Linked DNA regions of Homo sapiens: region 1 is linked to region 2. Evidence: fine-mapped expression QTL. Tissue or cell type: whole blood. Region 2 holds a variant in brackets; the other region holds the start of a gene. All regions are shown on one strand. Distances are from middle to middle.

The links. PIP is the estimated chance that this variant, and not a neighbour inherited with it, causes the effect.
Region 1: LMNB1 starts here. The variant in region 2 is fine-mapped to the expression of LMNB1 in whole blood (INTERVAL, PIP 0.96).

The regions. Positions count from the first base shown.
Region 1 is chr5:126,775,973-126,778,774 of GRCh38, reverse strand. LMNB1 (lamin B1) reads right to left here and starts at 1,639. Exons shown (of 11, transcript NM_005573.4): 1 at 908-1,639. The coding sequence starts at 1,266. It overlaps LMNB1-DT (LMNB1 divergent transcript), which reads left to right and starts at 2,289. Exons shown (of 4, transcript NR_134485.1): 1 at 2,289-2,480. RefSeq lists enhancers at 1-62, 1,078-1,878 and silencers at 553-662, 873-922, 1,233-1,312, 1,513-2,162.
Region 2 is chr5:126,842,883-126,845,684 of GRCh38, reverse strand. No RefSeq gene overlaps it. Among named protein-coding and RNA genes, the nearest start is that of LMNB1, 67 kb to the right of the region's middle. RefSeq lists an enhancer at 1-372. The variant C/A (reference allele first, on the strand shown) is at 1,548.

The sequences.
Region 1 (2,802 bases), 67 kb after region 2:
GGTACTAAGCACAGTCTCTACCCGAAAGCCTGACTATACTACGAGGAGGCAAAAGCTGGGGACAGAGGGCCGCTGCCTGAGGGGTAGGAGAACCGCAATTCTAAGAACGGTAGCCGTGACATGCACAAACCCAGCTTTCCTTCCCTGCGCAGAACCACCCGAGGGACCGCACCATCCCCGCTGGGACAGGACACATTTCCCCAGAGAAAGCTAACCAGCTAGCAAACCTAACTTGCCCGGGGCTGGCTGGAGGCGCACGGATCAAGCTCCGCCTCTCTCTCCCGCCTAAAGCAGGCGTAGAATCTTCGCAAAACGTCACAGGGCCAAGACTGAGCGCGCCAAAGCGGGACCCACCCCCAGGAGACGCGGATGCTGCGGGAAGGTCCCTCCCCTTCCTCTCTCTGCCCGCGCGAAGCTCATTCATTCTAGAGGCGGGCTGCCAGTCCTCCCCGGCCGCCCATCCCGGCACTGCAAATCCGCTAGACGCTTTGTCTCGCGCCGGCCGGAAACTGGGGCGCGCACGCGAGCGCGCGCTCGCGCTCCAGCTCCCCGCACCTGGGGCCTGAGGGGCCGCCTCTCCGCGCCGGCTCCCCGGATTCGAGTGCGAAAGCGGGAGCTCCTTCTCGGCAGTCCCAGGCGCGCACTTACCACGTCCCAGCGGGTATCCAAAATCTAGAAATGGGCATCACGGCCCCCCAGCGCTACAGCTCGAGCCCCCTCCGCGACCCCTGCTCCGCTATGAACTCTAGATTCTTTCTCCTTTCCGGAGACCGAGACCCTGTTCCTTCAGAAGGACGCGTGCATCCTGGCCTCTGCTCCCTCCCCACGGCAGAACCCGGTGAGCTGGTCGCCGCGGTTGCGCCCCCGCCCCTCCTTGGCGCTAACGCGGCCGCCAGCTAGCACTCACTTGAGGAGCAGCTGGTCGTGTTCCGCCTTGCACTTGCCCAGCTCGATCTGCAGCTTGGCGCGCTCGCGGGCCGTGTCGTCGAGCGCGCGTCGCGCGTCGGCCAGCTCGGTCTCGTAGAGCGCCTTGAGGCCGGTGAGCTCACGGCCGCGCACCTCCTCGCGCTCCGTCACCTGCAGCTGCAGCGCGCTGTTCTCCGTCTCCAGGCTGCGCACCTTGTCGATGTACACCGCCAGCCGGTCATTGAGCTCGCGCAGCTCCTCCTTCTCCTGGAGCCGCGACAGGCGCGTGGGGCTCAGCGGCGTGGTGGGGCCGCCAGCGCGGCTGCCCATCCGCGGCGGCACGGGGGTCGCAGTCGCCATGGCGGGCGGCGGAGACAGCGGGGCGGCGAGGCCGCGAGCGGGACCGTGATAAGGAGGGGACGGCAGGGGGCGAAGCGGGGACCGAAGGCACAAACCGGCGACCTGCGCTCACGTCCAGACGCTGGCGTTTAGAGGAACGGAGAAGCACCTGGGATGGCGGGAGCTCGATTACAGCACAAAGGGCAAAGGCGCGCGGGGGGGAACTACGAATCAATCGATCGATCGCGAAATACCCTTTGTAAGAAAACACACACACCCACTCACACACGCACGCGGGAAAATGCAAGACGAGGGTGACTGGAGGCCCAGCAGGGTTCGCGCCGCCGCCGTCTCCTGCTCGCAGCACTTTGTTTCCTCTCAGGCTGCACGGAGCGGCGGGCGGGGGGAGGAGGGCCGGGAGGGGCGGGCTGGAGGCAAGCCGCGGGGGGCGGAGGTGGCGCGGGCCGCGGCGCCGCACTCCCCAACATGGCCGGCACGCCCCGGCGCCTCCACGTGACTACCATGGGCCAATGGGGAGCAGGCAGCGCGCTTCGGCGGTTCGGGGGCCGGGCCTGTAAATTTAAAATCTGGCCCTTGGGCAACCGTCAGCTCGGCCCTCCCGGCTGGGCGGTTCCCGGACCAGGCTCAGGGCTGTAAGGAAGGACGCCTGGGACTGCCCACCCGCGCGGCTCTGGGCCCAGGGCCCTCCCGCCGCCCCGCGGGGACCCCTTGGAGGGGCCGGGCCTGAGAAAGGCGGGAAGGAGCCCGGAGGTTTCCGGGACGGATCTGCGCCACCGCCCACACTCGGCGGTTCAGGGAAATTCAAATATAAACGTCCCTAAAAGCCACACGCGAAACTCAGAGTGTCCCCGGCCACCGCGGGCGTGGTAACCTTATCCCCCGCTCCGCTGGAGGGCTCGGGAAACGGCCTGGAGGCCGGGACGCTGTGGAATTACGTAATAGGCACTTGAGTCCGAGGTTCCAAATGCACGGCTTGCAGGTTCCAAGTACCAGCCTTTATTTTTCTCTCCGGTGGAAAACTGTATCAGGCAACTTCTTTCCATGAAAGTGAGATCTGTGCGTCTTGAAGCCGATAGATTATCACAGAAAAACCAGCAACCCTGATTTTAAATCATTTGCCAACAGTGTTAATGGGCGGTTCCTAATCCGTTTCTTAATTTAAGGGTTTGTAAAATCAAAAAACAGCTCAGAAATGATACGATTAACATATGACGGTGAGTAACTACGAGAGCAAGCTGTTTCATACTCCGTTAAAATCAGGTACATAAAAATCTGAACTTGTGAAAATTTAAGATGAAATAATTTTTTGCTTTTAAAAAGAGGCTCCCAAGATGTCACTGGCAGCTACTTCTATTAGAAAGCACATTCATCCCTTTGAAAAGTTCCTAATTTTTAGCTAACATTTATTGGGACTGAGTGCCAGCACCAGGCTTTTCATGGATTACCCATCCACACAATCTCCGTGTGATGTGGGAAACTGGATTGTTTCTATTTGAAAATTCATCCGGGCGGGCGCGGTGGCTCACGCCTATAATC
Region 2 (2,802 bases):
CCAAGCCATCGCATCCCCTGTGACTTGCACGTATAAGCCCAGATGGCCTTAACTAACTGAAGAATCACAAAAGAAGTGAATATGCCCTGCCCCACCTTAACTGATGACATTCCACCAAAAAAGAAGTGTAAATGGCCGGTCCTTGCCTTAAGTGATGACATTACCTTGTGAAAGTCCTTTTCCTGGCTCATCCTGGCTCAGAAAGCACCCCCACTGAGCACCTTGTGACCCCCACTCCTGCCCGCCAGAGAACAAACCCCCTTTGACTGTAATTTTCCTTTACCTACCCAAATCCTATAAAACGGCCCCACCCTTATCTCCCTTCGCTGACTCTCTTTTCGGACTCAGCCCGCCTGCACCCAGGTGAAATAAACAGCCGTGTTGCTCACACAAATCCTGTTTGGTGGTCTCTTCACACAGACGTGCATGAAATTTGGTGCCGTGACTCGGATTGGGGGACCTCCCTTGGGAGATCAATCCCCTGTACTCCTGTTCTTTGCTCCGTGAGAAAGATCCACCTACGACCTCAGGTCCTCAGACCGACCAGCCCAAGGAACATCTCACCAATTTTAAATCAGGTAAGCGGCCTCTTCTTACTCTCTTCTCCAACCTCTCTCACTGTCCCTCAACCACTTTCTCCTTTCCACTCTTCAATCTCTCCCTTCTCTTAATTTCAATTCCTTTCATTTTCTGGGAGAGACAAAGCAGACACGTTTTATCGGTGGACCCAGAACTCCGGCGCCAGTCACGGACTGGGAAGGCAGCCTTAGCCTTCCCTTGGTGTTTAATCATTGCAGGGACACCTCTCTGATTATACACCCACGTTTCAAGGGTGTCAGACCACGCAGGGACGCCTGCCTTTGTCCTTCACCCTTAGCGGCAAGTCCCGCTTTTCTGGGGAAGGGGCAAGTACCCCAACCCCTTCTCTCCTTGTCTCTACCCCTTCTCTGCTTTTCTGGGAGAGGGGCAAGTACCACTCAACCCCTTCTCCTTCACCCTTAGTGGCAAGTCCCGCTTTTCTACGGGGCAAGAACCCCCAATCCCTTATTTCCACACCCCGACCTCTTATCTCTGTGTCCCAATCCCTTATTTCCGTGCCCCGACCTCGTATCTCTGCACCCCAATCCCTTATTTCCGCGCCCCAACCTCTTAATATCTCTGCGCCCCAATCCCTTATTTCCGCACCCCGACCTCTTATCTCTGTGTCCCAATCCCTTATTTCCGTGCCCCGACCTCGTATCTCTGCGCCCCAATCCCTTATTTCCGTGCCCCAACCTCTTAATATCTCTGCGCCCCAATCCCTTATTTCCGCACCCTGACCTCTTATCTCTGTGTCCCAATCCCTTATTTCCGCACCCCGACCTCTTATCTCTGCACCCAATCCCTTATTTCCGCACCCCGACCTCTTATCTCTGTGTCCCAATCCCTTATTTTCGTGCCCCGACCTCGTATCTCTGCACCCCAATCCCTTATTTCCGCGCCCCAACCTCTTAATATCTCTGCGCCCCAATCCCTTATTTCCGCACCCCGACCTCTTATCTCTGCGC[C/A]CCAACCCCTTTTCCCACTTTTCTGGAAGGTAAGAACCCCCGAACCCCTTCCCTCTGTTTCTCTACTCTCTTTTCTCTAGGCTTGCTTCCTTCACTATGGGCAACTTTCCACCCTCCATTCCTCCTTCTACTCCCTTGGCCTGTGTTCTCAAAAACTTAAAACCTCTTCAACTCACACCTGACCTAAAACCTAAATGCCTTATTTTCTGCAATGCCGCTTGACCCCAGTACAAACTCGACAGTAATTCCAAATAGCCAGAAAATGGCACTTTGAATTTTTCCATCCTGCAAAATCTAAATAATTCTTGTCGTAAAATAGGCAAACGGTCTGAGGTGCCTGACGTCCAGGCATTCTTTTACACATCAGTCCCTTCCTAGTCTCTGTGCCCAGTGCAACTCGTGCCAAATCTTCCTTCTTTCCCTCCCGCCTGTCCCCTCAGTACCAACCCCAAGTGTCGCTGAGTCTTTCTAATCTTCCTTTTCTACAGACCCATCTGACCTCTCCCTTCCTCCCCAGCCTGCTTGCTCCTCGCCAGGCCGAGCTAGGTGCCAATTCTTCCTCAGCCTCCGCTCCTCCACCCTATAATCTTTTTATCACCTCCCCTCCTCACACCTGGTCCGGCTTTCAGTTTCGTTCCGTGACTAGCCCTCCCCCTCCTGCCCAGCAATTTACTCTTAAAAAGGTGGCTGGAGCTAAAAGCACAGTCAAGGTTAATGCTCCTTTTTCTTTATCCCAAATCGGATAGCGTTTAGGCTCTTTTTCATCGAATATAAAAATCCAGCCCAGTTCATGACTTGTTTGGCAGCAACCCTGAGACACTTTACAGCCCTAGACCCTAAAAGGTCAAAAGGCCGTCTTATTCTCAAAATACATTTTATTGCCCAATCTGCTCCCGACATTAAATAAAACTCCAAAAATTAAATTCCGGCTCTCAAACCCCACAACAGGATTTAATTAACCTCGCCTTCAAGGTGTACCATAATAGAAAAAAGTTGCAATTCCTTGCCTCCACTGTGAGACAAACCCCAGCCACATCTCCAGCACATAAGAACTTCCAAATGCCTGAACTGCAGCGGCCAGGCGTTCCTCCAGAACCTCCTCCCACAGGAGCTTGCTACACTTGCTGGAAATCTGGCCACTGGGCCAAGGAATGCCCGCAGCCCGGGATTCCTCCTAAGCCGCGTCCCGTCTGTGTGGGACCCCACTGAAAATCGGACTGTTCAACTCACCTGGCAGCCACTCCCAGAGCCCCTG